4 linked regions of the Homo sapiens genome follow. The protein of the gene in region 2 interacts with the protein of the main gene of each other region in a biochemical or structural test. Each region holds a gene or a part of one and is shown on either strand. Other genes may lie near its edges.

Region 1 (7,491 bases), on a different chromosome or scaffold from region 2:
GCAGGCTCCGTCTCCTGGGTTCACGCCATTCTCCTGCCTCAGCCTCCCGAGTAGCTGGGACTACAGGCGCCCGCCACCACGCCCGGCTAATTTTTTGTATTTTTAGTAGAGACGGAGTTTCACCGTTAGCCAGGATGGTCTCGATCTCCTGACCTTGTGATCTGCCTGCCTCAGCCTCCCAAAGTGCTGGGATTACAGGCGTGAGCCACCTTCAAGTCTTGATTCACAGGTTATCCCCTCCGAGGCATGCCCTGACTGGCTCAAAATTACATGCTCAAGACCTCGCCTACCCTTTCTGATTTATTTTACTCCTTAGCACCTGTAACCATGTGACATACTCTATGAAATATTTATCTATTTTGTTCATTCTCTGTCTCTCCCACTAGAATGTCAGCTCCATGAGGGAAGAGATTTTCATGTGCTGTTCACTGCGGATCCATAGAACAGAGTACCCGGAAAAGAGTCTGGCATAGAACGGGTGTTCAGTATTGAATAAATAAGTAGCCAGGGGTCTCAGGAGGTGGCAGTGCCATGGCAGTTTGAAGGCTTCCGAAGGAGCCATCCACTTGAGAAGCCCCCAGGGGAGAGCACAGCATGTGGCTGCTGTGGTCAAGCAATTCTTTTCTGACTTAAACCAGCTGGATTAATTTTTTTTATTTCAGGGCAGGGCGGTGGTCACTTTCAGCCTTCAGGGACGCCTGAGTTGTGCTTGGCAGCCTGCAATACTGGAGAGCTGCCCCTGGAGGGCGCAAGGGAATCCCGTTGCTGCACTCGGACGCGCAGTCACTAGACATGAGAGATGACGGTGGTGGTAGCAGTAATGGAGCATTTGCCTTTAGGCCTCTTTTAACTTTCACAACAGCCTACAAGACAGGTACCATTATCCCCGTTTCCTAAGGGAGGAAACCAAGGCGCAGAGAGGCTAAGTAACGTGCTCACGGTCCCTCAGGGTTAAGTGGCAGAACCAGAAAAGAACCAGAAGGAAAGGAGATACAAGTCACCATTTTTGGCCTGGCGCGGTGGCTCACGCCTGTAATCCCAGCACTTTGGGAGGCCGAGACGGGTGGATCACGAGGTCAGGAGATCGAGACCATCCTGGCTAACGGTGAAACTCCGTCTCTACTAAAAATACAAAAAATTAGCCGGGCGCGGTGGCGGGCGCCTGTGGTCCCAGCTGCTTGGGAGGCTGAGGGAGGAGAACGGCGTGAACCCGGGAGGCGGAGCTTGCAGTGAGCCGAGATAGCGCCACTGCAGTCCGGCCTGTGTGAAAGAGCGAGACTCCGTCTCAAAAAAAAAAAAAAAAAAAGTCACCATTTTTCTGTACACCCAGAGGGAATCCAGGAGGGGCCCTGGATGGACCTGTTTCCTTTGGGGCTCATTGCACTGGGGTGTATCTCCTCTCGGGCCTGCTGGAGCCTCCACCCTATCTCCCTGCTGCACGTCTCCCAGCAGTGGCTTGTGTTCTCTTAACTGTGCAGCCAGATTGGACCTGCTCAGCTCCAGGTGAAATGGACAGAAAGCCCATCCCTGCCCGGTCTGAGGATTGGGAAGCCTTCCTGGAGGAAAACACGCTTAATTGGAGACCTGAAAGAGGACTAGGAAATAGGCAGGTGAAGAGGTGTGGGCAAAGACCTGAGGATATGGGGGTGACTGATGAATTTCTTCGAGGCTCTTGGCATGAGTAGAGTGAATGTTTACCCCAACCCGATGAGGCAAAGGCACCGCAACTTTCCTAGCCCACATTTCCATCCGTTTGCCCTTTACTGTAAACATTCAAAAGATGCATCCACCTCCTTCCACTCTGGCAGAACAGAGGACCTTATCTGCATGCCAATCTCGGATTATCTGTAGCCCAATCTCAGAGCTGTCTGAGCACTGGGCTTTGTAGTTTCCAGACCAGCCTCTGGGACAGGAAGTGGGGGGCTCAAGGGTTGTAGGGCCAGTGCCTTGCAGAGGCTGGGAATCCCCTTCTCAGGACCTGAAGACCCTGGAAACTGGAAGCCCCCCACCCACACAGAGGCACCCTGTCCCATAGCTGGCTCAGCTTCCAGCTCCCTGGGGCGCTGGCCTCCTTCGGGGAGATATTTTACAACCAAAGTTTTCTTCTTTTATGTCCAGCAGCACGTGGGTGGGGTCAGGCTGCCTGGGCTGCAATCCCACCTGGCCACTTGGCATCTCTTAACCTCTCTGGGCTTTACTTACCTTATCTGGAAAATAGGTTGAATGGCTTATTAATTGTGATGTGCGTACAGCAATGTCTGGCACATAATCAGTGCGACTCTCATTATTGTAGTATGAATGTGATTTGATGCTGTAATTTCTCCTCTCTTCAGGGTGCCGGTGTCTTTTTCTCTCAATACTCCAAGAAATGAGCGTCCAGCATGGATGTGAAGGGATGCTTGCTGCACCTGGAGTTTCAAGATGCCGCTGGGGAAAAGGGAGGCTGCTAGCAAACACCATTTTGGAGGGGGCTGTATGAAGGAGAAAAGTAGCCTAGAGCCGGAACTCAGATTTTCTAAAGGGGATTCAGGCGGCCAGAGGATAGTAGAGGGCCAGAAAGGAGGTCCCCAAGGAGGCTTCGGGGTAGGGTGTGAGGGGATCCTCAGGCAGACTGGGGAGCTGAGCCTGTTGTAACCGAGCGAGTTACAGAGAAACGCCGCACTTTGAGACGAATTCAGGGGTCCTTTATTAGCTGGCGACTGAGAGACAGCTAGTGCTCAAAATTCTCTCAGCCCCAAAGAAGGGGCTTGATTTTCTTTTATACTTTGGTTTAGAAAGGACAGGTGGGGGTCTAAAACAATCTTACAGAAGTAAAGCAGGCAAAAAGTTAAAAGGATAAATGGTTACGGGAAAGCAAACAGTTCCAGGTGCAGGGGCTTAAAATCTATCACAAGGTGATAGACACGGGGCTTTGGGCGTTATCAACCGGACACAAACGCCGGGGCTCTGGGTGCTATTAACCGGGCGAATTCCTGGGAACTGCGGATATAGCTTGCCACAGTATCTTATCAGTTAATTGCATTCTTGGATGTGCTGGGAGTCAGCTTGCACAAATTAAGTCCTTGAGGAAGCGGGGTGGGTAAGGGGCTGCAAATGAAAGAGCCAAGATGGAGTCTGTCTGGCTCTCTTAGCTAAGGGAGAGTCAATTCAGGTTAAAACAAGGTAGGGTATCACAAGCCCACTTAACAAGGGCAGCAGGACCCCAAGAAGAAAAGCTTTAGGAGTCTCCACAGTGGGCCCAGGGCAGTTCCACACAGGTCTCTGAGGCCCCACAGACAGGAGAGCTGTGACGACTCCCTTAGTGCCCAAGAAAGCAAGGAGGTGGTGGGCAAGGGGCTCCCAGAGGCCTTGGGGCACTAGAGGGGAGATGGAGCCGAGGGAGTGGCTCTGCAGGCCCCTCTCTGAGAGAGTGCATGAGGTGTGGCCCCAGGCCCAAGGGTAGGGGGTGCACAGGGTGAGGGAAGGGAGGAGAGGAAGAGGAGGAGGAGGTGGTGGCCACAGCGGGATGGCACTCAGCCAGGTTCAGCTTCGTGGGAAAGGTCCCAGGTGGGCCGGGCTAGCACTGGGGATGCCCTGGCTCTGTGTCTCGGTTGGGTGGCTGACTCCTCCTGGAACGCATCCCTGACATCCTCCAGGCTGGCTTGGGGATACTCTGGGGACACACAGTGCCCAGGCTTCCGGCCTCCCAGCCCTGGCTCCCTGTGGACTCAGCTGCCCCCAACAAGCCTGCGAGCCACTGGAGAGCAAGGGCAGGCTGTCCTTGCCATCCAGATGCCTGGCACAGAAGGGGTTCTCACCTTCGGGGTATGGGCTGACTCAGTGGGTTTCTCCTCCCTCCAGCTCTAACCTGCCTGTGGAATAAACAAATCACTCCTCTGGGTTGTCTAGCTGGTGCAGGCCCCAGGGCGACGCCCCTTTGAGGGGAAAATGGGGGCATTCCAGTTTCCATGAGCCCTGGGACTCCCCTCCTTCCCACCACTGCTGCCTACCCTCCGGTTCCAGGTATGCAGGCTTCCTCCCTTCTGACGGTTCCTGCTGCTGGAGTCGTCCTTCCTGAAACCCTGCCTTTGCTTAGCCTCATTCCCATCTCTCAGTCCCATCCTGCAGCTGGGCAGGCAGTGCTGGGCCCCGGAAATGCCCTCTGCCTCCCTGGAGCACGTGGCCTGTGATTTTCCTTGAGCACAGCACTTTGTGACTTTGATGTAAACATCAAACACAGCCCCCTTTCCTGTCTTCGCATCCAGGAAATAGGTTAGTTTCAGACAAGCCTGCTTGCCGGAGCTCAGCAGACACCAGGCCTTCCGGGCAGGCCTGGCCCACCGTGGGCCTCAGAGCTGCTGCTGGGGCATTCAGGTAAGCGGCTGTCCTCGGGCCTTCTGCCTGTGTCCTGCCACCAGGGCCACCCCAGGGGGCTCTGGGAGACCTGGCAGAGGATGAACCCCCCCCATCCATGAGTGAGAAACCCTGGCGGGGTGTGACATCCTCCCCCGGGGTGTGTGCGGAGAGTGTGAGCGGCAGGGCCTCCCTCTCAGGCTGGGGGCTTGGGCTGCAGGGAAATCCAAACCGGCTTTGTAAGCCCCGATTCCTCACCCAGAACCGGCTCTCCATTGGCATTGGGACCAGAGACCCCGCAAGTGGCCTGTTTGCCTGGACATCCACCTGTACGTCCCCAGGTAAGTGGTGCCTGGGTGGAGTGGCACCTGGCCACCGTCTCCATGGTGGGCTGTGTCTGGAGGAGGAAGACAGAATATTAACTGGGAGTCAGGAGGTTGCTGGGAGGACCAGGAGAGCTGGAGGACTGGGCTGGGTGGTGACTGGCTGGAGATGGAGGCAGACGGGGCTTGTGGCCACGCTGAGGGAAGCAGCTCCCCCTCCAGAGGCTTGGCCGAGCGGGGCTGTTCAGGGGACACGGTGAGGCCTGCTCAGTCCCTGGGCTCCTGCTGGGCCCTGTTTGGCTGCATCCTTGGCTCTCGGAGGCAGAGAAACCTCCAGAGAAAGCGCATGTGCACTCTGTGAAGATGAGGGGGCTGCTCACCAGGGCCGTGAGCTCCATCAGCAGAATGCTGTGATTCCTGTGAGGAGTCCAGGGCAGGCTTGAGCCACTTGTAGGCGAGCTCAGGTTAGAGGAAGACCTGGAGAGAGAAAGAGCAAAACACCGAGTTCTCCTCAACTGCTGTGTGTTCTCGGCAAGTTGCTTGGCCTCTCTGACCTCAGTTTGTGCATCTGTTAAATGCACATGCAGATATGGGCACCTGGCAGGCGCCTGGTTCCTGACTGTTGGCGAGAGGCTGGGAAATGTGTCCCAGGTAGGAAGCATCCCCGACAGGAAGGAACAGGAGTTCATGAGGTGAGCAGCTCGAGATGATTCATTACTCTCGTCTTGGTTGGAACAGTAGGCAGACAGGAGGTGTTTAATAATGCCTTGCTGAGAGATCAGGGTCAGGGACTCCTAAGGTGCCACCTGTGAAGCTGCCTCCTGCTGAATCCAGAGCTTCCTTTTCCTCTTCACACCTGCCCTCCATCCTCAGCCCCACTGCCCTGGCAGTGTTGCGGGGGTGGTGTTGATGTGCACACTCTGGAGCCTGGGGGCCTGGCTTCACATTCTGGCTCTGCCACTCACCAGCTGTGTGACTGGACCAGTCACCGCATCTCTCTGTGCTTCCCTCCCAGGGCTCTCGGGAGGATAAAGAGAGTGACTGTATCCACACTGCCCGGCACATACAGGTGCTGCAGAAAGGTCTCACTAAAACCCTCATTATCCTCACTAGCTCTGGGTGGCCTCGGGCTCTGGACTCCACAGTTCCTGTATGCTCTCCGGGGCTGCAGCACCCAGACCACCCCGTGCTGACCACTCCCTGCCCCACCCCAAGGTACAGGGTTAAGGCAGCCATTCTCATCAGAGCCAATTTTACCTCCTCCCGTCTCCCTGGGACAGTTGATAGTGCCTGGAGACAGTTTGGGTTGTGACCCAGCGGGTGTTACTGGCATCCAGCATGTCCAGGACAGGAATCCTGTGAACAGCCTACAAGGCCCAGGACAGTCCCACCCTGTTCCATTGTCTCTATCAGCCCCTATCCTCCTGACTCACACCGCCTTTTCCCATCTCCCTTTTACAGTCACAGAGCCTGAGGCCCAGAGAGGGACCGCTGCTTGCTGAGGTCACACAGGCAGTGGAGGCCGGAGTTGGGGGCCTCACTGGAGGGGCGGTGGAAGGGCATTGTTCAATCAACAGACACTTGGAGAGTGTGCTGGGTTGGGGAATCTGACCCTGACCCCGCACCAGCCCAGCTCTCCAGGGTCTCCTAATAGACATTTGCTGGAGTGGTTAGTGCTGGCTGCTGCATTGGACAGACCTGAGTTCAAATCCTGGTGGCCCCTTGCAGGCTGCATGTTCTGAGAGTGACATTGACCTCTCCGAGCCTCAGTTTCTTTAGCTGAGGAGTGGGATAACAGTTCCCACCAAATGTAGTTGTGGTGAGAATTAGAATAAATGGCTAATGCTCGCAAAGGGTAGTGCAGTCCCCAGCACAGAGGCTGTTGTGATTGTCCTTACACACTTGACAAATATTTGTGGGGAGGAAGCAGGAGCTTCCATAGAAAACAAGACAGAGCCGTGGGCCCTGCCTCGGGGAGCTCAGCCTGGTGAGGGACTGAGGAGCAGAGACAGAGGCCATCAGGGCTGTGATGTGGGAGGATGGGGACCCTGGAAGCCTAGGGGAGGTGCCTGACCCAGGCTGGGGAGGGGGCAGGGCTCATGGAATGCTTCTGGGAGGATGGGACAACGGAGGAGGCCTGAAGCCGGAGGCCCAGTAGAAGGATGCAGCGCAGTTCTGGGCTGAGGGAATAGCCTGTGGCCAGGATCCTCAGGATGGGCCCCTCCTCTCCCGCCATCCTCCACCCAAGGAAGCCCCTGTGGCCCCTCACCCCTTCCCAGGTGTCAGGTTCCACCGGTGCTCAGAGGCATCCCCACCCATCCCAGTGGACTGCAGACCTTTGTAGGTACCTGGTATATTGAGCACCTCCTCTGTGCCATGCTGGTATAGGTAGGAGAACAAGACAAAGGCTCCACTCCCGTGGTGCTTACATTCTGGCAGGGACAAAGGTACTATGTCACCAATAGATACAATATCATCTTTTAGGTGGTGAAGAACAACAAAGCTGGGTCAGGGCTAGAGAGAGAAGGAGAGGCTATTTTGGAGAGGGAGGTCAGGGAAGGCCTCCTGGAGGAGGTGACTTAGGCAGAGACCTGAATAAAGTGGAAGGTGTTGGAGGAAGAGTCTCCAGGCAGAGGGAACAGACAGTACAAAGGCCCTGAGGCTGCACCATGCCTGGTTTGTCCGAGGGACCTGAACGAATAACATGAGGAGGCCCGTGTGGCTGGAGGGGAGTGAGTGGCGGGGGGTGGTGATGGGCATCATGAAGGGCCTTGGGGGCCACCCTGAGGACTTGCATTTTCACCCCGAGTGAGGTGGGAGCCTAGAGGGCTTCAAG
Region 2 (7,905 bases):
TATACATATTTATTATATATATATATGTTATTTTTTTTTTGAGACAAAGTGTTGCTCTGTCGCCAGGCTGGAGTACAGTGGCACGATCTTGGCTCACTGCAACCTCTGCCTCCCGGGTTCAAGCGATTCTCCTGCCTCATCCTCCCAAGTAGCTGGGACTACAGGCATGTGCCACCATGCTGAGCTAATTTTTGTATTTTTAGTAGAGACGGGGTTTCACCATGTTGGCCAGGATGGTCTCAATCTCCTGACCTTGTGATCCGCCCGCCTCGGCCTCCCAAAGTGCTGGGATTATAGGCGTGAGCCACCATGCTTGGCCTATTTTTCTTTTTTTTTTTGAGATGGAGTCTTCCTCTGTCGCTCAGGATGGAGTGCAGTGATGCAATCTCCTCAGCTCACTCCAACCTCCACTTCCCAGGTTCAAACAATTCTCCTGCCTCAGCCTCCTGAGTAGCTGGGATCACAGGCATGTGTCACCATGCCAGGCTAATTTTTATTTTATTTATTTATTTATTTATTTTTTTTTTGAGACGGAGTCTGGCTCTGTCACCCAGGCTGGAGTGCAGTGATGCGATCTCGGCTCACTACAAGTTCCGCCTCCCAGGTTCACACCATTCTCCTGCCCCAGCCTCCCAAGTAGCTGGGACTACAGGCGCCCGCCAGGACGCCCAGCTAATTTTTTTTTTTTATTTTTAGTAGAGACAGGGTTTCACCACGTTAGCCAGGATGATCTTGATCTCCTGACCTCGTGATCTGCCTGCCTCGGCCTCCCAAAGTGCTGGGATTACAGGCGTGAGCCACCGCGCCCAGCCAATTTTTATATTTTAGTAGAGACAGGGTTTCAACATGTTGGCCAGGCTGGTCTCAAACTGGCCTCATATGATCCACCACCTTTGGCCTCCCAAAGTGCTGGGATTACAGGCGTGAGCCACTGCGCCCGGCGTAATATAAGGTGTATATATGTGTGTGTGTGTATATATGTGTATATACACGCGCGCACCCCTTATACATACTGTCTGCAAATCAAATGAAATAATAAATACGAAAGGAGGCTGGACGCAGTGGCTCACACCCGTAATCCCAGCACTTTGGGAGGCCGAAGTGAGTGGATCACCTGAGTCCAAGAGTTTGAGACCAGCCTGGGCAACATAGTGAAACCTTGTCTCTACAAAAAATACAAAAATTAGCCGGGCATGATGGCGTGAGTGCCTGTAGTCCCGGCTACTGAGGAGGCTGAAGGGGGAAGGTCAACTGAGCCGAGGAGGCAGAGGTTGCAGTGAGCAGAGATCGCAGCACCGCACTCCGGCCTGGGTGACAGAGTGAGACCCTGTCTCAAAAATAAATAAATAAATAAATAAATAAATAAATAAATAAATATGAAAGGATACTGAATACTGTTATCCTCAAGTAAGATTATTTGTAGCAACAGAATACAAAATAAGGCTGGGTGCAGTGGCTCATGCCTGTAATCCTAGCACTTTGGGAAGCCGAGATGGACCAATCACCTGAGGTCAGGGTTTTGTTTTGTTTTTTTTGGCGGGGGGTGTGGGGAGACAGAGTCTCACTCTGTTGCCCAGGTTGGAGTTCAGTGGTGGAATCTCAGCTCACTGCAACCTCTGCCTCCTGGGTTCAAGCAATTCTCCTGCCTCAGCTTCCCAAGTAGCTGGGACTACAGGTGCATGCAGCCATGCCCCGGCTAATTTTTTATATTTTTAGTAGAGACGGGGTTTCACTGTGTTGCCCAGGCTGGTCTCGAACTTTTGAGCTCAGGCAATCCGCCCGCCTCGTCCTCCCAAAGTGCTAGGATTACAGGCGTGAGCCACCGCGCCCGGCTACAGTCAGAGGTTTGAGACCAGCCTGGCCAACATGGTGAAACCCCATCTCAACTAAAAATACAAAAAATTAGCCAGGCATGGTGGCAGGTACCTGTAATCCCAGCTATTCAAGAGGCTGAGGCAGGAGAATCGCTTGAACCCAGAAAGAGGTGGCACTGAGCCGAGATTGTGCCACTGCACTCCAGCGTGGGTGACAGAGTGAGACTCCGTTTCAAAAAAAAAAAAAAACAAGAATGCAAAATAAATTTAGAGTACTGAGAGTCGGAGAGGAAATGCTTGACAAAAGCTTGTTCCTTCTTTTTACTAGAAGGCAGGGCTAGCCACAGGTCGGTCGGCTTAACATTGCATCACTCACATTCCCTACCACTAGTCCACTACATTCTTATTTGGGGCAAAACTATCAGCCAACAACACTATCAGTCTCTTGCCCTATTGTCAGACTCTAAAACCCCTGTATAGAAAGGGATAACACTATCACGGGCCAGTCCCCAAGAACAGTGGCCTCAATAACAGCCCCACTTGCTATTAAATGAAATGAAGTTTCTGAACGGGGAAGCAGTCTGTCAATCCCTCAAGCAAAACGCCTTCACCCCTCCTGGCTTTCTGCTCTTCCTCTAGCCCCCTCCTCCCCACTACCCAATTTCCCAAAGTCCTGAGTTAGGGAAGGCCTTCCAGTGTGTGGTGTGTGAACCCTGCCAGAGAGCCAGGCTGCAAACCAAGCGCAGGGATGTGAAGAATGTGAGATTCCTTCATGGAGGGCTGGGAGGGGGTGAGGAGCGGGGAAGGAATGAGAGGACAAGGCTGCCAACGACAAGGCATGGGAGAGGAGCCAAGCTATGGCGCTTCGAGGGCGGGGGTTTAGGTTCCACCGCCCCTGCCCAGGCTGGCCCCCGGAATGCTCCCTTCCTCCCCTTCTGGCCCGTCAATCATTGCCCATTTAAACACCACGCTGTTCCCCCAGTTCTGCAGGTGCCGGTCCTCCAGCTAGCCCCGGCCCCCTCCCGCACTTCTCAAAGCTCCCCTATTCCAATGGACCTTCCCCAACAACCCGTTCTCCAGAGCCCCCTTCTCACCTCCCGACTCCTCGCCAGTGCTGCTCCCTTCTCACATTTTTATCTCTACCACCATCCCTCCTCCTGAACCCCAGTTATTTCAACCCCCCGCCCCAATACCCCTGGGACATCACCTCCTCCCCTCCCACACCCTCTTTTAGGTGGAAGATCGCGCAGGCGCAGTACGCACCGCCCTGGAAGCGGCCTGGAGTCTCCGCAACCTGACCCAGTCGGAGCTGAGGCCGCAGCGGCCACAGTACTGCCCTGGTGCCGGGTCCCAGCCTCTCCCGGGAAGGGAAGGGAAAGGGGAAGGAGGGGAAAGAAGACTCCTACCACTCGTCGCCGCCTCAGACGGATCCTTTGCCCCGCCCACCGCTGCTACGCAACCCGGCGGAAGCTCGTCACCAAACCCCGCCTCTTTGTTTAACTCAGCCCCTACACCAGCAGCCAGGAGCTGCCTACGAGGAGGGACGAAGGCTGGCCAGGCCTCCACTCTAGACAGGAAGTCTAGTCTAGAGTCTATATGGTCCCAGCCAGGACTATGTAGCCATTTAGGAGGGAGAACTCTATGTTCTTCCCGGCAAAAACGTGTGGGCCTGGCCGGCCACGCTTCGCTTTGGAGGGGTGCAGGTGACTTGTGTCTTAGAGCTGACGCAGATTGTTGCGAGATCATTGCGGAGAGGCAGGCCTGCAGCGTGACCTGCTGCGGGTCCGGCCCCTCTCCCTTTTCCAGAGCCCTGGTCAGCATCCCAGAGCTTCGTAACCCCTTGACTCCTGTCATGGGAATGGATATTGCAGTTAACAAGGCGGCCGCGGGGTGGGGAGTGAGGGAGTCTGACCGCAAAGCTTAGATCTGGGGTGCTCAACGGGTTGTCTGCCTCTCTCCCAGGCGCTCTCCTGCCGTATCCACGATGGCTCCCCGAACACTTGTGGAGTTCCCTGAAACACCTAAGAGGAAGGAAGGGAGAAAAAATTTCCCTCTTCCTGAGTTGGGGTTTGATTTCCTTAGCTTACAACACCGTGGTGTTGGGGATGTGGGCGGTAGAGAACGTGGGATCCAAGGGAAGTCAATGTGGAGCCTAAAGAGCTCCGTGAGCAGATAAGGGATTAATTAAGCAAACCAAGGCATTACAATCACATGACTTCCTAGACTAATCTGGTATTAAATAGTATGGTATTTATTGTGGACATTGGCTAAGCAAATGCTAATGCACATTAATACACACATACACACATATCTTTATGTAATTTGTTTATACACAACAATACAGAGCTAGCTACCTTTTGTGGACAATTTGACAGGTCCCAAAAGGAACTAAAGTTTCAGGCCTCCTTTCTGCTGTCTTCTAGCGGGACTCTGAGATAAGTAAGATAAGAGTAGTATGGCCGGGCGCGGTGGTTCATGCCTTTAATCCCAACACTTTGGGAGACCGAGGCTGGTGGATCACGAGGTCAGGAGTTTGAGCCCAGGCTGGCCAACGTGGTGAAACCCCGTCTCTACTAAAAATACAAAAAAAGTAGCCGGGCGTGGTGGCGGGCGCCTGTAATCCCAGCTACTCGGGAGGCTGAGACAGGAGAATCGCTTGAACCCGGGAGGCAGAGGTTGCATTGCAGTGAGCCGAGATCGCGCCACTGCACTCCAACCTGGGCGACAGAGCAAGACTCCTTTGCCGGGGTGGAGCGGTGGGGCGGGGCGGGGAAGAGTAGTATGGCCAGGTGCAGCGGCTCACGCCTGTAATCCTAGCACTTTGGGAGGACGAGGTGGGCGGATCCCTTGAGGTCATGAGTCCGAGACCAGCCTGGGAAACATGGCGAAACTGTCTCTACAAAAAAAATACAGAAATTAGCCGAGGGTGGTAGTGCGAACCTGTAGTACCAGCTACTACGGAGGCTGTGGTGGGAGGTTGCAGTAAGCCAAGATTGCACCACTACACTCCAGCCTGGGTTACACAGCGAGACCCTGTTTCAAAAAAAAAAAAAAAAGGGACTAACAATGTTTCTCTCTTTGTCGCAGGTTCCATTTCTTCCAAGAAGGGTGAGCCTGCCTTTTGTCTCTGGTGTAAATGCCACTTTTCCCAGAGACCTTGACCAAGCTGGGTAGTGCATTAAAGATGAGAACCCCAAATCAGGAACAAAGATAACGGTTAGAGCAATAAAAAGGGAGGAAACCGTGTGTGCCTACTGTGTGCAAGGCACTTTTTTAAATATAACTTCCGTTTTCTCGTAAGATGGAATTACATATTTTTTGTCTTTTTTTCCCTTTTTGTGGAGAATGGGGTCTCGTTATATTGCCCAGGCAGGTCTGGAACTCCTGGACTCATGCTATCCTCCAGCCTATGCCTCCCTACGTGCTGGGATTACAGGCGTGAGCCACCGCGCCTTGCGGAATTGGAATTACATATGTTTAAATAGTCGAGAAATGAAGTGAAGCATTGAGCCAGGATTCAAACTTTTGTCCGCCAGATTCCGAAGCCCTTGCTCCTTTTCCCATTGTGTCACTCTTTGGAAAGAAACGTCTTAGAACCTAAGTGCATTCTCCCTAGCCAAGTTAAGGAAAACTGGGGGCCCTGTGCGCCTTCTAGTGGTGGATTTTTCCCCCTACAGAGCCAACTATCTCCAAGGTTCCTTTAATACCTGAAATTCGCCCCCTTCGCGGCGCACGAGTCTCTGATCCCGATTGGCTGGGCAGGGCAGGCGGCGGGACGCAGGGCGCGCCCGGGCGGTGCTGATTGGCCGGAGGAGGCCAGCCGGGGGAAACTTCCGGGAATGTCCGCACTCCCGCGTTCCACGGGGCAGCATCCGGCGGCAGCGGAGCCTGTGGCTCCCCCTGCGGGCTGCTCAGCGGCGTGCACAGTCCTGCCGGCTGGCTTGGGTGGGTGGTGGGCTGCGGGTAGGGGAGGGGATGGACCGAGTCCCGGCTTGTCGGGATGAGGGTTCCGGAAGATCTGGCCAGTAAGATTCTACTCCCTGGCTGTGCACCGGGTTCCCTACCCCTGTCTACGTCGGCTCCGCCACTTCGCGGCTTGAGACTAAAAGAGCATCCCGGCAGGGGGCCTTCCAGCCCCAAAGCAGCCTGTCCAGAGACCCCCAAATTCTGATCCTGAAGTTGGAGGCCTCCGGGGATGTTCTTTTTTAATCTTTTAGAAGGGTTAGAGGGGTTGAGGCTGCCTGACCCCAGCCTAATGGGGTAGGTAGGCCTTGGGAAGTGGAGCATGGGGGCAAAGGATCCAAGCATTGAGCCTTCATCCTCTATTCCCCATCCAGTGGGGTGCCGAGGCTCAGGCAGCATGACGACGGAGACCTTTGTGAAGGATATCAAGCCTGGGCTCAAGAATCTGAACCTTATCTTCATTGTGCTGGAGACAGGTGTCTATACTGGGGTGGCGGGTTCGCGGGATGGGGGTCGGGGGCAGGAGGGGAAGAACGCTGTCTGCGTTCTTAACTTGCTATGGGGATGGCAAGGCAAGCTGCAAGACACTCCTCACTCCCAATCTCTTCGACCCTGGGACAGAAAGTTGCAGTCAGGTATAGGGTAGATAGAACTCTTGCCAGATCTAGACCTCCTGTGCGACGCGGGCCTCTTTCCACTCAGGGCCCTCTCCATGGTGCTGGCCCCTGAACTCCCACCTCCACCCTCCACCACCCCTTCCACAATCCCAACCCTTTATGCCCCAGGGATTTGGGCTTTCCCCTGTTTGTACACCTTTTCCCTCATTCCACCAATATCCACATCTCATCCTTCTGAGAGATACCACTCCATTTATTTGACCATCCTCCCACCTCGATTTATCTGTTCCGTTCAGGCCGAGTGACCAAGACAAAGGACGGGCATGAGGTTCGGACCTGCAAAGTGGCGGACAAAACAGGCAGCATCAATATCTCTGTCTGGGACGATGTTGGCAATCTGATCCAGCCTGGGGACATTATCCGGCTCACCAAAGGGTAAGTCAGCTGGTGACTTCTGGCCTTCCAAAGGCAACAACAATCAAGAGTGGGGTTAACAGTCCCTATAACACTTCTGAGTACTGAATTTTGCTTTTTTTGCCTCCCATAGGTACGCTTCAGTTTTCAAAGGTTGTCTGACACTATATACTGGCCGTGGGGGTGATCTGCAGAAGATTGGAGAGTAAGTGCTGTCTTGGGGATTGGGATGAAGAAGCACCAGGGCAAAGGGGTTTGCAAGGAGGCAGCATAGGGTGTGCAGTCCAAGCCTCATTTCTGGACTTTTTCTGTTTGTTTGTTTGTTTGTTTTGAGAAACAGTCTCTGTCGCTCAGGCTGGAGTACAGTGGCATGATCTGGGCTCACTGTAGCCTTGACCTCCCGGGGTCAGGTGATCCTCCCACATCAGCCTCCCAAGTAGCTGAGACTACAGGCGTGCTTCACCACACCCAGCTAATTTTTTTGTATTTTTTATAGGGATGGGGTTTCGCCATGTTGCCCAGGCTGGTCCCAAACTCCTGGGCTGAAGTGATCCTCCCGCTTCTGCCTCCCAAAGTGCTAGGATTACAGGTGTGAGTGACCACACCGAACCTATCTGGACTTTTCTGAGGCCTCCAGCAGTGGCCCAGAGGATGAATTCAAGGCTTTAGCTACTTTCTTCCCTTGCAGATTCTGTATGGTTTATTCTGAGGTTCCTAACTTCAGTGAGCCAAACCCAGAGTACAGCACCCAGCAGGCACCCAACAAGGCGGTGAGTCCTGTGGCCACAATGGTGGGAAAGGAGGGCAGATCAAGACAAGAAGCATGGGAGGGAGCAGGATCTGAATATGTAATCTGTGCCTTCAGGTGCAGAACGACAGCAACCCTTCAGCTTCCCAGCCTACCACTGGACCCTCTGCTGCCTCTCCAGGTAAATCTGTTCCCTTCTATCCACTGGTCCTCCTAGCTCTCCCACTCTCCTCAGCCTAGAAAGATGCATTTCCCTCATTCCTTTTCCAAATCTCTCTTTTCTCAGTGTATCCTCCTTCACCCAATTCTCCCAGACCCCTTTTTTTTTTTTTTTTTTTTTTTTTGAGAC
Region 3 (8,157 bases), on a different chromosome or scaffold from region 2:
AATACAGTAACTAACACTTCACGATTGCTCACTATGTGCCAGGAACTGTTCTAAGCATTTTACCCACATTCAATCATTTCTATCCTGGCCCTACTGGCCCTAGATGGTGTGAGGCCTGGGCTGTGCAGATAGAATACCTGGGTTTGAATCCCAGCTTCACTGCTTACTGTTGTGACCTTGAGCAAGTTATGCAACCCTTCTAAACCTCAGTTGCCCAATTCATAAAATGGGCATGTGGTACCTTCCTCATTGAGTTGCTAGGAGGATAAAATGGGTAATAAAGATATAAGTACTTAGAACAGTATGGAGTAAGTATTCAATACATGCTAGCTATTAGGAGACCTCAGGGGTTAAACAAGCCAAAAATGACCCTTATGCTAATCTGTCAAGACATGTCAAGACCTCCTGGACTCAGAGCAGGAGAAAAGATGTCCCTTTAAAGCTGATTTGAATTTGAATCTCAAATATGACTGAGGAGTTCAGTTAAGTATTTCTTCCCTTAATTAAGCAATTTAGGTTTTTAATGCTGGCCTTATTTCAAAAAAGGCAGTAGCCTGAGACTATGCTAATTCTGCAGCATTCCCCAGCTGACTTCCCCACTCCCACCTCCAGCTTTTTTTTTTTTTTTTTCTTGAGATGAAGTCTCGCTCTGTAACCCAGGCTAGAGTGCAGTGGTGCGATCTTGGCTCACTACAACCTCCACCTACTGGGCTCAAGCGATTCTCTTATCTCAGCCTCCCAAGTAGCTGGGATTACAGGCATGCACCACCCCACCCAGCTAATTTTTGTATTTTTAGTAAAGACAGGGTTTCACCATGTTGGCCAGGCTGGTCTCAAACTTCTGATCTCAAGTGATCCGGCTGCCTCAGCCTCCCAAACTGCTGGGGTTACACCCAGCCCCACCTCCAGTTTTTAAGGAGAGCTGTGCACATTGATCATCCACACCGACGACTTCACCTGAAGCGTCCACACCTGACACACCCCTGCAGAACCCACATTTTCTCCCTGTAATTCTGGTATCAGGAACTGGAGCCCTAGTATTAGGAAGTCGTATTGGGACGTCAGTGGAAGGCAGAAACCATCAGTCCATTTTGCAGCCTTCTAAGGCCACTCCAACGTGTCCCAGCAGCCTGGAGAATAACAAATTCAAGGGTCTACTTTGATTAACAGATTACAACCAAGTTAGTAGAGAATAAACAAGGTTTGCCCAGAGATAAGGGAGGGGAGACATAAAGTTATTGCCTGTAATCCCAGCACTTTGGGAGACCGAGGTGGGTGGATCACCTGAGGTCAGGAGTTCGAGACCAGCCTGGCCAACATGGCAGAACCCCATCTCTTCTAAAAATATAAAAATTAGCCCGGTGTGGTGGCGCATGTCTATGGTCCCAGCTACTCAGGAGGCTAAGGTGGGAGAATCGCTTGAACCTGGGAGGCGGAAGTTACAGAGATTGCGCCACTGCACTCTAGCCTGGCGACACAGCGAGACTCCGTCTCAGAAAAATAAATACATAAATAAAGTTATCACCTGAAAAAAAAATGTGAGAAGGGAAAAAAATAAAAAGGACTTTCATTTACTTGGCCCTCACTGATTAAGTTTGGCCAACTCTCCTGTTCAGGTGCTGTAATTCAAAGATGAAAAGAAGCTGCGCCCAGTCCGGACGCCAGGCCTTGTGTCCCCACCTAAGAAATCTGCACGGCAGGGATTAACCAGGGGAGAAGGGCCTGGCCGCTGGGCCTTGGCTTCCTCTTAGGCAGAGTTCCAGCCCCTGAGACTTGAGCCGACCGGCCTGAGACGACTCCGGCCGCCGCCACCCTATGCTGGCAAACAGGCCTCTCCCCAGCAGGCTCCAGGGGCAGCCACCTGCGCTCTCCCTGCCCTCCCCTACCCCACTCTCCTAGAGGAAGGATGAAGAACAGCTCCCCCTCCTTACTCTCAGGCACCCACAGATTTCTGAGCTGCCGTCACCACTGACGAGAACCCAGGTCCCCTGGAGGGATCGCTTCTCCTTCTGATTCCATCCTCCCCATCAATGAACACGCAGGAACACCCACGCTCCCGCTCCTCCTACTCCAGGGGGAGACCGAACCCGAGAGCGACATCCGGAGCTGGAAGCCGCTGCAACGGGGGCGCCGGCCTCCCTGCCCCGCAGTCTCCCGCCCTTTCCCAGACACCGGAGGATCCCAGACCAGCCCAGTATTCCAGACGGAGAGGGTGCCCGAGTCCTCCGCAGGGCCCCGCCTCCCTAGGCGCTCGGCGCTGGAGACCTAGGGGAGCGCGCGAGAGAAACGCTGAGCTCCACCCGGCTGGGGCGGAGGCTGAGCACTATACCCGGGACTCGAACCCCGCGCCCTCGTCCCCCAGCTTTAGGCATCCCACGGCGAGCCCTGGCCCAACGCCCCCGCGCCGCGTCTTCCCCCGCACCCCCGCCCGGAGCCGAGTCCCGGGTTGCCAGCGCGCCCATCCCGCCCCCAACAGGTCTCGGGCAGCGGGGAGCGCGCTGCCTGTCCCGCAGGCGCTGGGAGGCGAGCCGGAGCGAAGCCGAGGGCCGGCCGCGCGCGCGGGAGGGGTCGCCGAGGGCTGCGAGCCCGGCCACTTACGCGCGGGCTCTGGGGAACCCCATGGAGAGGAGCACGTCCAGCGCCGATCCATGCTTGATGGTGCCGGGGCGCTGTTGGCGGTTCCTCCGGGGGGTGACTTTGCTGTACAGCTCCTCTCTCGCAGCCATGCCGAGCGGACTGGGGTGGCCGTACTGAGCCATGGCTCAGCGGCCAGCCATCGCCAGGGAAGGAGCCCGAGCCGGATGGTTCGGGAAGGAGGAGGGAGTCGGGCTGGGCCAGGGGAGGGGGCTCGGGGACCCAGAGCCAGGCAGGAGGCGGCGGCAGCGGAGGCGGCGCTCCGAGCTTCCCCAGTGTCGGGACTCTGACGCTTCCTGGTGAGGCCACAGGAGCCAGAACGCCGGCAAGCGGCCGCTGCGGGACCAGCCTCAGCCACTCGGGCCCCCGGCTGCCCCCAGCTCTGCGCCTGCAGTAGCCCTGTCTCCTCCGCCCCCTTCCCTCTCCTCGCCTAGCAGTCCGGGAATTTGCAATGAGTAATTTTTGAATGGATCAAAAAGGAAAAGGAGCCTTGTGGGCTGGCCCTGACTTGCCTGTACCCGGGCCCCGCCCCTCTCTTAAAGCGGCCGCGCTGTCCGAGGCTGCTCCGTGCGGGCAAGAGCTGTAGTCGCGCTACTTGGAGACGGAGGATCCCAACCTTATGGGCTGCTTGTGTGCTTCACCTCCCGAGAGTCACCCCCGGCGCCCCAGCCCTCTCCTTGGCTGGCATACCCGCCCAGCTGGGCCTCAAGACAGGAGATCAACCCATCTCAAGTTTCATGTGATTCTAGATGCGGTTATTAATGGAAATTGGGTGAACTGGTGGATGATACTAATGGACCAGAAGGCCAAGCCGTAAGGCCTAGGTAAAAGGTTTTGCTTCTCAAAGATCCTGCAAAACCCAAAGGGTTGTTAGGACCATCGGAAGTTGAGTTCCCAATCAGCCGGCCAAGTGGCTGCACTAAAGACCTACTGCGCTCTACAAGGTTATGGTCAGTGACTGAATAGTGCCTTCCCGGTGGGGCAGAGGGGTTGGGGAGAAGGACCTCAGGTTCTCAGAGGTGGCAGGACCTGGGAGGGGACAAGAAAAGAGGGACAGGGCAGAAAGAAGAGGGAAGGGAAAAAGAAAGGAGGAAGGAGGAGGAGAAGAAGGAAGGGCTAGGAGGGTAGAGGAAGAAGGAACAGAGAAAACATACTTCCTAATTATAAGAGGTGTTCAAAAGGGAACGGGCTTATTTCATTAGGGAGTGGATATCCTGTCAATAAAAGGATTCAAAGACGGACCGAATCACCACTGCACAATAATAAGTGAATTGTATCATAGGCTGGACAAAACTACTCCCACTGCAAAGATGGTGGAAGCCACAACCATATTGATGCCCCATGCCCCACCTGGTGAATTTGGCTGGGGGATGCTAACCCTCTTTCGTTTGGAAACAAAGTCATTGTCTTCAGTCAGGGACAAGGGTCCCACTTGCTATAATGAAAGAGGCAATGAGTACACCCTAACTGATAGTCTTTTTTGGGTAATAATAATAATAAAACCTAACATTTATTGGGCTCTTGTATGTGCCAGTCATTGTGCTAATCGTAATGAATGAACTCACTGAAGTTTTATACTGACCCTAGGAGTGTGTTTAATCATTATCCCAGTTTTACAGATGAGAAAACTCAGCTCAGAGAGGTTGGGGAAGATCATAGAGCTGGTAAGTGCGTAGCTACAGCACTCGTATCCACTGCGGTGCCTTAGACAAGTTACTTCTCTCTACAGCCTAATTTCCTCATTGGTATGGACCGTGGTAACCTAACCTTGCACACACTGGGTTTTCCAGAAATGTCAGTCCGGGCCTGTCCCTGGTTGGAATATGGGGGAGGGATGGTGACCAGCACCCATGGAGTGGCTTTTTGAGGTTGCTTTATAAGGCCTGTGAAGGTTTTACCAGGGGAAATGATACAGTGTAACTCCCTGAGCCCGGAATTGGTTTCCTAAAGAATAGCCAGTGGTGTTTGGAAGCAGGGAGATAAGACAGCTGGAGCTTAAGCAACAATGTGTATTAATTCTGCCTCCTGCTGTACAAAGGATGAGGGAAAATTAATGCTTCCTGGGTAGTAGCTGCTTCCAGAGCAAAGGGGATATCCTGGAGACCTTGCAGAATGCTCTTCCAGGACATGGAGCAAAAAGACAAGACTGGGCTGGCAACACCATACCTAGTATTAGCCTCCTTGGATGTGTTCGGTAAAACATGCTGGATTTTATCCAGTATTCTGAATTGTTTCCAAATGCCTGGGCTGAAAGTCAAATGATCTGGATCTTAGTCAAGAGATAATAATGTATGTGAAAGCGCTTTGTAAACCATAAAGCGCTACATAAATGATAACTCAAATTTATTGAGTACTTACTATATGCTGGTGTTGTTCTTTGCTTCTTACATATGTGACTCAAACAATTCCTTGACAAGACTATGAACTAGGAACTACTTTACAAATGAAGGTGCTGAGCCAGAGGTCAAGTATCTTGTCCAAGGTCACATGGCTAGTAAATGGCAGAGCCAAGATTTGAACTCTTAACATTTGGCCAAACAACTAGTTAACGACCATTGTTATGATGATAAAAGGACACCAGCCTTTAAGATAGTTTTTTGACTCCATCTATGCCCCTTGACATAGAATTGCTGGATCTCTGTTTCTCCAGAAAAATTGAATTAATTGTCTTTCTCCCTGCCTTTAGGCAAACTGTAAGATAAAGGAAATGATGCATATAAAAATAGTTTTAGGTAGACTGGAAAAAGCACTATGAAAAACTAGGCACCTGAGATGCAAACTGTTTTTGTCTGGGACACTTTTACAGAAATCCCAGCTTGGCTTCCTCACTTGTCTTCAGCTCAGTGCAAACCCCTGTTTTATTTAGGACTCCTGCCATTTGTTCTGCACTGGGTTGGGGGGCTGGCAATTCAGATGCATTGTGCTTTAATTGTGTTGACGTTGAAAAGCTAGGAAAAGCTTCATAAATGTCTACACTGTTCTATTACAAAGAGAGAAGAGGGGGGCTGGGTGCGGTGGCTCACCCCTGTAATCCCAGCACTTTGGGAGGCTGAGGTGGGCGAATCACAAGGTCAAGAGATCGAGACCATCCTGGCCAACAAGGTGAAACCCAATCTCTACTAAAAATACAAAAATTAGCTGGGCATGGTGGCATGTGACTGTAGTCCCAGCCACTCCGGAGGCTAAGGCAGGAGAATCGCTTGAACCTGGAAGGCGGAGGTTGCAGTGAGCTGAGATCATGCCATTGCACTCCAGCCTGGTGACAGAGCAAGACTCCATCTCTAAACAAATAAATAAATTGAGAGAAGAGAAATGACTATTCATCTGGCAGTATATCTTACAGTGGCCAAAAGAAGTGAGATGGGAGTAGGGGTCTTGCACAGGGACAGAGCTGACACATCAGCATGAAGTTCCTCCCTCAGAAGGGAAAGCAAGTTGACATGTCTCCGTGTGTGGTCATGTCAGAATCCACTCTGGACCACAAAGCTCTCTTTGTTCATGTGAGCATGTTTAACCCTCCCTCATTGGCCCCTGCCATATTTTTGCTATGGTACATCCTCTCAGATGGCCAGAGGGAGACCCAGGATGGACCCAGTTGGCTGCACTCACAATTTCTGAAGCATGTCCTATATCTTCTCCTTCTCCTTCACTCTGTCCTTGAGGAACGGTCAAGTAATAACAATAAGAACATGCAGTAGGTCTGTAATTCTAGTACTTTGGGAGGCTAAGGCAGGTGGGCAGATTGCTTGAGCTCAGGAGTTTGAGACCAACCTGGGCAAAATGGTGAACCCCATCTTAATTAAAAATATAAAAATTAGCCCAGCATGGTGGTGTGTGCCTGTAGTCCCAGCTGCTTGGAGGGCTGAGGCAGGAGGATTGCTTGAACTTGGGAGGTCGAGGTTGCAGTGAGCCAAGCTGAGATGGCACCATTGCACTCCAGCCTGAGTGACAAAGTGAGACCCTGTTAAAAAAAACAAACAAGGCCTGGCGCGGTGGCTCATGCCTGTAATCCCAGCACTTCGGGAGACCGAGGCGGGTGCATCGCGAGGTCAGGAGTTCAAGACCAACCTGGCCAAGATGGTGAAACCCTGTCTCTACTAAACATACAAACAAATTAGCCAGGTGTGGTGGCAGGTGCTTGTAATCCCAGCTACTCGGGAGGCTGAGACAGAGAATGGCTTGAACCTGGGAGGCAGAGGCTGCAGTGAGCTGAGGTCACGCCCGCCACTGCACTCCATCCTAGGCAACCGAGCGAGACTCCGTCCCAAAACAAAACAAAACAAAAAAACAAACAAATAACAACAACAACAAAAACAGGCAGTAAAGTCTGCCCACTGTTTCAAATCCTAAAGGCTGGGGTGTTGCCTTGCCAAACAAAGGCAGCTTTGGAACTGCTGGGAATGACTTTCACCCCTAGACTTTAAGGGGATCCTTCGTGGTCAGAAGATTTTGAAACCATGTGCTGCCCCTCTCTGGGCCTCAACTTCCTTGCTTGCCAAATGAGGGGATTAGCTTAGCCTGGGGATCGCTAGGATTTTGTCAAGGGACCCCCAGGAACTTTGAGGGACAGGGGTTGGGGTCACCCAACTGAGGATTAAGAGGGTAGTGTGGTATCCTCTTTTCTTTCATTGTAAGTCTATCAGCTTTATATGTTGGGAGTTTTTTTGTTTTTTGTTTTGTTTGTTTGTTTTGAAACGGAGTCTCTCCCTGTCACCCAGGCTGGAGTGTAGTGTCACGATCTCAGCTCATTGCAATCTCTGCCTCCCGGGTTCAAGCAATTCTCCTGCCTCAGCCTCCCAAGTAGCTGGGATTACAAGCATGTGCCATCACGCCCAGCTAATTATTGCATTTTTAGTAGAGACAGGGTTTCACCATGTTGGCCAGGCTGGTCTCGAACTCCCAACCTCAAGTGATCTGCCCGCCTCAGCCTCCCAAAGTGCTGGGATTATAGGCATGAGCCACAGGGCATGGCCAAGATCTAATTTTTTTAAGTGTTTTTTTCTTTCCTTTTTTTTTCTTTTGTTTTGTTTGTTTTGCTTTGTGTTTTTCAGGGTCTTGCTCTGTCACCCAAGCTGGAGTGCAGTGGTCTCAACTTGGGCTCAAACTATCCTCCCACCTCAACCTCTTGAGTAACTGGGACTACAGGTGTGTCCCACCATGCCCAGCTTCTTTTTTTTTTTTTGGAGAGATGAGGTCTTGCTGTGTTGCCCAGGCTGGTCTTGGACTCCTGGACTCAACTGATTCTCCTGCCTCAACCCTTCAAAGTGCTGGGATTATAGGCATGAGCCACCACACCTGGTCCCAAGATCTCATTTTGAATAGACTTGTTTTGTTTTGGGTAGAGACAAGGTCTTGCTATATTGCCCAGGCTGGTCTCTACCTCCTGGCCTCAAGTGATCCTTCTGCCTTCCTCTCAGCCTCCCAAGATGCTGGGATTAAAGGCAGGTGAACCACCTCTCCCAGATGAATAGACGTTTTTAAATGTAAATTTAGGCTAGATGTGGTGACTCATGCCTCTAATCC
Region 4 (8,120 bases), about 46 Mb from region 2:
TCTGGGTACTATCCAATTTAGGCCCCACTTTAAAAGTGTCCTCTGAAACAGGCATAAGATGTGAGAATGGAAAGACTGTTAAAGAACAGAGTGAGAATGAATCCTCCTATCATGTTAACTCAGCATTTCTTTTAAGGTATTCTCAATCAACAATACTTCCATAATTAATAACTGTGCTTCCATATTTTCCAAGGTGAACAATATTTTCTGACATGTTTAATTCATGTGAGAGCAGCAAGAAAAGTCAAAGGTGATTCCAAGTTTTTGGCAGAGGAACCGTAGGTATGGAATATTCATTTATCGAGATGGAGAAACTCATTGGGAAGAGTCACTCATTTTTTGATGTGTTAAGTTAAAAAATCCTAAAATATATCAAAGTCAATATGCCAAGAATCCAGTCAGATATGTGGTTCTGGAGATCAAGCAATGGTATGGAAATATAATTTTGGACATTATCAATGTATGGCTATTAAGTCATGAGGTTACAAGAGATTAATTCCCATTCTGGCCATTCTATGGGTACTATCCAATTTAGTTCATCCCAGGATAAATTAAAAAAAAAACAAGAGGACCAAGAACTGAATTCTGGGACACAACAACATTTTAAATTAATTTAAGGAGGAATCCAAATCTGAGGGAGGATTGGGTTGTGAATGAAGCAAAAGGAAATTGAAGAGAACGGTGTCCTAGGGAACACTGTATTTTAGAGAAGAATGTATGTTATGAAAAGGGAATAATCTTTTTTTTTTTTGAATGCTTATCTGGTGCGTGAGATGAATTCTGAGAACTAGCCATTAGATGTGTTCATGTGGAGGTTAATGGTGACTTTGACTGGAGTGTTTTCATAGAAATAGTGAAGGAAAAAGCCTAATTAACATAAAGGAAAAGTAGGATGAAACAGTAAGCACAGAGAGATTTTTGAACATTTTTGTTGTCAAGAAAATTAGAGAAATGTTAAGAAGAAATATAAGAAAATTAGAATCGTGTGTATGGGGGCATGGTAAACAAAAGATGGCTTTTGCTTGTTTTTAACATAGGAGATATTATACCATGTTGGGAGGTGAAGGTGAGTGAACAAGTGGAGATGAAAAGAAATTGATAGTGCCAGAGCGAACCAAAGAAAGAAAATTACAAGCTTGAAATCCCTATTGGCCGGGCGCGGTGGCTCACACCTGTAATCCCAGCTCGTTGGGAGGCCGAAGCGGGCGGATCACGAGGTTAGGAGATCGAGACCATCCTGGCTAACACGGTGAAACCCCATCTCTACTAAAAATAAAAAAAAATTAGCCAGGCTTGGTGGCGGGTGCCTTTAGTCCCAGCTACTCGAGAGGCTGAGGCGGAAGAATGGCGTGAACCCGGGAGGCGGAGATTGCAGTGAGCCGAGATTGCGCCACTGCAGTCCAGCCTGGGTGACAAAGCGAGACTCCGTCTCAAAAAAAAAAAAAAAAAAAGAAATCCCTAAGGAGGTAGGTGGATGGATTTTAATATACAGATGGAGATTGAGCATAGATTATGTTACGGGATCTTTGGGATGTTGATTTTCTGTTCAGAAACCTGTGTGGCTGTGGCGTCTTTGCCCGAGTTCTTGTCCTGCGTCTATGGTTGCTAGATTGTATGTTAATATTATACTTAGCTCTGTAAGAAACTGCCACACTGCCTTCCAAAGTGGCTATGCCTTTTTACCTCTCACCAGCGGTGAATGAATGCTCCTGTTGCTCCACATCCTTGCCAGCATTGGATGTTGTGAGTATTTTGGATTTTAGTCATTCAAATAGTATACAGTGGTTTCTCATTGTTGTTTTAATTTGCAATTCCCTCCTAAGGTATGACATTGAGCATCTGCAACACTGAACTTAGCTCTCCAAACAAGGCTCAGCCTTGTCTGCATTCCTTTCCCTACCCTCACTTCCCCTTCTACTTGGAATGTTATTTGTAGCATTTGTTTGTCTCCTGTAACCCTGCCAATCCTTCCCAATCCTCAGAGCCTTCACTGACAGCATCGGGCGGCTCACTCGTTCCTGCTGCCATAGTAATTTGTGCGTAACTTTTCTTGAGATTTATCACATCCTGTTATTATATGCTGTTTCTTCTACCGACATTGGTTGCTACTCCCATTTCTCAACCTCCTGGCTTCAAGCAATCCTCCCACCTTGGCCTTCCAAAATGCTGGGATTACAGGTGTAACTAACTGCACCTGGTCTTGCTACTCCCGTTTCTAAATAAAATTTCAATCTGAGTAAAAACTAAAGCCAATTTCTTCCCAAAATGGTGGGGGGCACTGGACACAATATCGAAGACCATTAGCACAATCAGTAGCACCAGACAATGAGTCAGCAGAGTCACTAAAGCCTCAGGCCACGAGTTAGAAGACACTTCACAGATTAAAGGAAATCAACAGAGGAGTAAGAAATAACCAGGGATGGCCTCCTGGAGATTTCGTGTTTGACTCCCTTTCCCTCTCTATCTCTAAAGAGAAAGTGCAGAGGGCATTTTAGACTGAGGGATCAGTAGGAGCAAGAGTAAGGAAGCTACCTGATTTACAGAGGCTGTCTACTGCCTGCAGTATCAGGCCATTGAAATACACTTAACGTCTTTCCACCAGCGGCTCCAGCCTTCCCCTCCACTTGCATCTTCCCTCATCCATCTCTGCAGATGATACATACTCCCACATATCATTCATTATTTCTTAAATATATCAGCTCACACCTTCATATTATTTTACATTTCTTCAGAATCTTTCCTAACCTAGAATGCCCTTTCCCCTTTCTCCTTTAATCATGCCTTTCTTATAAAGTAGGTTCAGATGACCTTCTCTGTCAGCATCATCTGTAATGACATACCTTCCACCCTACTGCCAGTGGTTCTTACCTCTTCTGCAGAGAGTATCATCAGTTTGAATCATTTAGATCTTGGCTAACATGGGAATCTTTACCATTGTGTGGATCAAATACCCAGATCTTGATAAGAAAAATAAAAATGCTATTGTCACATAAATGGCTGGGTTTAATCATCTGTGGGCCTTAGAGTATGTTTTCTTCAGGACAAGGTAGGCCGTTGTGCTTCACAAGAGCTTGCGAGTTATTTGAGAAGAATCAAAACATGTTGCCAGTCTAGCAGAAAAGCATTTCAACTTCACCACAGATTGCCACAGCCGGGTACAAACGGAAGTCCCGCCCCCTTCCAGGTTGTTGGGGTGGGAGCTGCCGGATGAGCTGCTGCGGCCCTCGGGGCGCAGGACCACACCATCTGCGCAGCCTGCACCCTCGCGGCCCGGTAAACTTGACAGTTTCTTATAGAGGTAAGTATAGTATTAACAGACAATCTAGGAACCATAGAAAGTGGAAAACCTGTACACACTGCTGAGACCAGCTCGGTCTGGGAGACCCTAACCCAGAGGCGCTAGAGGAATTAAAGACACACACAGAAATATAGAGGTGTGAAGTGGGAAATGAGGGGTCTCACAGCCTTCACAGCCGAGAGCCCCGAACAGAGATTTACCCACGTATTTATTAGCAGCAAGCCAGTCATTAGCATGGTTTCTGTAGATATTAGGTTAACTGAAAGTATCCCTTATGGGAAACAAAGGGATGGGCCGAATTAAAGAAATAGGTTGGGCTAGTTAACTGCAGCGGGAACATGCCCTTAAGGCATAAATTGCTCATGCTATTGTTTGTGGCTTAAGAATGTCTTTAAGTGGTTTTCCACCCTGGGCGGGCCAGCTGCTCCTTGCCCTCATTCCCGTAAACCCACCACCTTCCAGCATGGGTGTTAGGGCCATCATGAACATGTCACAGTGCTGCAGAGATTTTGTTTATGGCCAGTTTTGGGGCCAGTTTATGGCCGGATTTTGGGGGGCTTGCTCCCAACACACACAAAAACTGGCACACACATTTTCACAGGAGCTTTATTCATAATTGCCAGACATTAGAAGTAATTATGATGTCTTTCAAAAGATGAGTGGATAAACAAACTGTGGTACATTCATGCAATGGAGTATCATTCGACAACAAAATGAAATGTTGTCAAACTATGAAAAACATGGAGGAATCTTAAATGCATATTACTACGTGAAAGAAGCCGGTTTGAAAAGCTATCATATTATCCTAGCTATATGACATTCGAGAAAAACCAAGACAAAGAAAACAAAGAGATCAGTTGTGACCAATGATTCAGGGGAAGAGGAAGATTGATAGGAAGGGGGAAGATTGCTGAGTAGGTAGGGCACAGGGGATTTTTGTCTGCAAAAATGTACACCCATGTACATAAGCAGGGCTCTGAATTTTTTAAACTTTTCAAATTTTGTGGCAGGGCCTATTGAATGGGTTGAGGGAGACCTTCCTGATTGATACCTACTAATGTATATACAAATTTGAGACAGATATTTTGAGGGAGAGTGGAATTCAGGTACAACATACCTATTACCCCAGAAAGGTGTCAAGTGGAAGTAAAAAAAAAAAAAAAGAGGTGTGTGAGGTAAAAAATTAAATTAAATTCTAAATGAGGACATGGAGGTTCTTGTGGAAAGTTTTTTCTTGTATATATATATATATATATATATATATATATATATATATATATATACACACACACACACACACACACTATGTTTTCTTTATCCACTTGTTCATCAATGAAATGAACATTTAGCTTGTTTTCATATTTTGGCTATTGTGAACATGGGAGGAAATGAGATATTTGTAAGACTAACTCAAACATTGCATTAAATGGTCCATATTTAATATAAAGAAATCAAGATAATTAATATATACGTCTGGCTTTTCAGATAATGGATGTAAGCCCTGTCCTGAAAGGTGGCAATGGAGCAAAAGACCAGTAATATAAAATAATTCAGGAATCCATAACATGGCAAGACAGCAAGGATAAAAATTTTTAGAGGATCTCTAAAATTTCTACCTTACTCAATATAGAGAATAAGGAATTGGTAAATATGCAGGTCTCCTGTCTTTTGTTAAAATTTACAGAGGTGAGGTGAGAAGGTAAGGGTAAGTTAAAAAAATTATTGAGTACCTAATAATAAAATACTATGCTCTCAGGCGAGTCTATAAATGATCACATTTAATTCTTCCTTTGTGTGCAAACAACAGCCTTACAAGTCTGGTAATATCATTCCTAATTTTTAGATATGAAACCTAGGCTTTAGAGGATAAGAAACTTGATTTAGATCACACAGCCTGGTTTTGCATATTGAATAGGATAACAAAAAGAGACAGAGGAAATATATACTTCCTCATTTAAATACTTATTTTTGTCTTTCATTATTGAATTCCAAATCTAACACATCATTCTGGAAAAGAGAATCTAGGGAAATAATAGTGTACAAGAAGAAGAAAATAAAATATAAACCAAAAAAGAGAATAATTTAAAAAATACATCGTATCTTGAATTTATAATTGTTCTAAGGTGGATACATTGTTATTGTATAAAGTTAAGGTTTACACAACAACTCACCTGCCTTCTGACAATTCTGACAATCAAATGCAATACTTTGGAAAGTTTTAGGAGAGCACGTTTCATTAGGGAATCAAATTTTCAGTCTAGGTAAATGAAAAGTATGCTGAAAGAAGAGAATGTACGACTGATCCGGGGAAGAAGCTTTAAAAAGTAAACACTTAATGAGATTTTTATTTATATTGGATTTAATAGAGTTTGGAGGCAGAGGAAAAGGCAGGATAAGAAAACAACTTCCTAACTTGTGCATTTTTTTTCAATGTCCATCCACAGCACAGAAGCCGTGGTGGTGTCATGGAATATTGTCAATTTCGGTTACATTTCATCATGGTCAAGTCAACTCCAGGAGGCAGCATCATGGACGATTTGGCTTATGTTCTGCTTTTGTCTTCTACAGAACCTTGTGTCTCACTGTTGTCTCCTTCCTGGCTGGGGTTATCACATGGCATATCCAACTGTGAGTGTGGGAAGATGGCATAATCCTCTGACTGTGTCAGAGTCTTAGGAAATTGTGACTGTTATAAGATGGCACAATCTCTTCCCTGATGTGTGTCAAGTTCTTAGAAAATTGTGGTGAGCTATTCCTTTTTCTTTTGGCAGGTTTTTGTCTTGGTGTTTACCAAGTGATCCGAGATAGAGAGAGGGAAAGAGGAGAGAGAGAGAGGGAGAGAAGGAGAGAGAGCGGGGGAGAGAGAGAGAGAGAAAGAGAGACAGAGAGAGACAGCGAGATGGGGAAAAAGAGAAAGGGAGAGAGAGGAGACAGGGAGAGAGGGACAGAAAGAAACGGAAGGAAAGAAGGAAGGAGGAAGGGAGGGAGGGAGGGAGGGAAGGCAGGCAGGCAGGCAGGCAGGCAGTTTTATTGCATGATCTGTGCCCTTAACCACAATGATTTGCTTCCATGGAATGAATTTCCTATTTAGCCCTCTGATTACCTAGAGGTAACCTCATACAGATGATCTATAATGAAAGTGATTGGAATACAGTAAGCTTATTTTTTTGCCAGGATTATAATACCTGGTATGATACTAGTTTACATCTCTTACAAACTACCTAAGACTAAATTTATAAGTTCTGGTCTATTATTAAGTGAGGTCTATGCAATTTCAAATACTGGGAAAATGCATGTACTGAAATATGCATTACTAGAAAATTAAAAATTACTCATTTTAAAAAATGAGTTGGAATTCCTGTTAGAATTCTTATAACCAGCATGCCCTTATATCCCTTAGGAGACATTTTTTGGTAATTTCCATTCCTTTTATGATTAAAAATGTAGGTTTTTTTTTTGTCTACTGTATTAGTCTGTTCTCATGCTGCTTAGAAAGACATACCCGAGACTGGATAATTTATAAAGGAAAGAGGTTTAATTGACTCACAGTTCCACATGGCTGGGGAGGCCTCACAATCATGGTGGAAGGCAAAGGAGAAGCAAAGTCATGTCTTGCATGGTGGCAGGGGAACTCTCCTTTGTAAAACCATCAGAACTCATGAGACTTATTCACTATCAGGAGAACAGCACAGAAAAAACTCGCCCCCATGATTCTATTACCTCTCACCAGGTCCTTCCCATGACACGTGGAGATTCTGGGAGCTATAATTCAAGATGAGATTTGGATGGGGACACAGCCAAACCATATCAGCTATGCGAATCTATAATTTTCTCTTTTTAAATTTTTTATTTACTTTAAGTCCTGGGATACATGTGCAGAACCTGCAGGTTTGTTACATAGGTATACATGTGCCATGGTGGTTTGCTGCACCTATCAACCTGTCATCTAGGTTTTAAGCCCCGCATGCATTAGGTATTTGTCCTAATGCTCTCCCTCCCCTTGCCCCTCATCCCCTCAACAGGCCCCAGTGTGTGATGTTCCCCTCCCTGTGTCCATGTATTCTCATTGTTCAACTCCCACTTATGAGTGAGAATATGCAGTGTTTGCTTTTCAGTTCCTGTGTTAGTTTGCTGAGAATGATAGTTTCCAGCTTCGTCCATGTCCCTGCAAAGGACATGAACTTATTCTTTTTTATGGCTGCATAGTATTCCATGGTGTATATGTGCCACATTTTCTTTACCCAGTCTACCATTGGTGGACATTTGGGTTGGTTCCAAAGTTTTGCTATTGTAAATAGTGCTGCAATAATTTTCTCTTAAAGTCTGCTTTCTCTTCTAGCAAAAGAGCCAGAGGAAAAGCTATACTTATACTTCACCAGCCTCCAAAATTCCCAAAGTTAAGACACAGACTTAAGGACTGCCATAAGCTACATTTCTGTCAACTGAATTATAATCCTATTGTCTTCTAACAGGAATATAGGAAAGAAATAAAGATAAATGTTAATTCTGTAACATAGTCATGTAAACATAGCCTGCAACATATACAACTTTCTTTTGCTCCTATGATAAATTCAAATGTGCAATATACCACAAATGGGGGCCTAGATCTGAGGAATCAAGCTTTCATAGAGCAATAAAAGCGTTTATTTTGTTCATTTCTAACTAACAACCTAAAATATAAAGTTCTTAGAAACAAATAGTTTAAATTAATAAAATGAATATGCCACATTTTATTTTTATTCTATTCACATGTCAATGGACATTGAGGTTGCTTTCGTGTGTTGGCTATTGTGTACAGTGCTGCAATAAACATAGGAGTTCA

Evidence for each region.
Region 1: the proteins of RNF41 (region 2) and ZAP70 form a complex in vitro, tested with the Homo sapiens proteins (one study listed by BioGRID).
Region 3: the proteins of RNF41 (region 2) and UBASH3B form a complex in vitro, tested with the Homo sapiens proteins (one study listed by BioGRID).
Region 4: the proteins of RNF41 (region 2) and CLEC9A form a complex in vitro, tested with the Homo sapiens proteins (one study listed by BioGRID).

Annotation. Positions count from the first base shown.
Region 1 is NC_000002.12:97,709,322-97,716,812, forward strand, and holds the start of ZAP70 (tyrosine-protein kinase ZAP-70), read left to right. Parts: upstream 1-4,254; 5' UTR 4,255-4,353; intron 4,354-4,560; exon of another isoform or gene 4,561-4,594; 5' UTR 4,595-4,673; intron 4,674-7,491. UniProt on the Homo sapiens protein: Tyrosine kinase that plays an essential role in regulation of the adaptive immune response. Regulates motility, adhesion and cytokine expression of mature T-cells, as well as thymocyte development.
Region 2 is NC_000012.12:56,218,683-56,226,587, forward strand, and holds the start of RNF41 (E3 ubiquitin-protein ligase NRDP1), read right to left. Parts: upstream 3,241-7,905; 5' UTR 3,078-3,240; intron 3,020-3,077; exon of another isoform or gene 2,909-3,019; intron 1-2,908. Other genes in the region: NABP2 (SOSS complex subunit B1), read left to right, coding at 6,100-6,253, 6,691-6,829, 6,942-7,013, 7,497-7,578, 7,674-7,737. UniProt on the Homo sapiens protein: Acts as E3 ubiquitin-protein ligase and regulates the degradation of target proteins. Polyubiquitinates MYD88. Negatively regulates MYD88-dependent production of pro-inflammatory cytokines.
Region 3 is NC_000011.10:122,650,652-122,658,808, reverse strand, and holds the start of UBASH3B (ubiquitin-associated and SH3 domain-containing protein B), read right to left. Parts: upstream 3,088-8,157; 5' UTR 2,760-3,087; coding exon 2,599-2,759; intron 1-2,598. UniProt on the Homo sapiens protein: Interferes with CBL-mediated down-regulation and degradation of receptor-type tyrosine kinases. Promotes accumulation of activated target receptors, such as T-cell receptors and EGFR, on the cell surface.
Region 4 is NC_000012.12:10,025,721-10,033,840, reverse strand, and holds the start of CLEC9A (C-type lectin domain family 9 member A), read right to left. Parts: upstream 3,160-8,120; 5' UTR 2,869-3,159; intron 1-2,868. UniProt on the Homo sapiens protein: Functions as an endocytic receptor on a small subset of myeloid cells specialized for the uptake and processing of material from dead cells.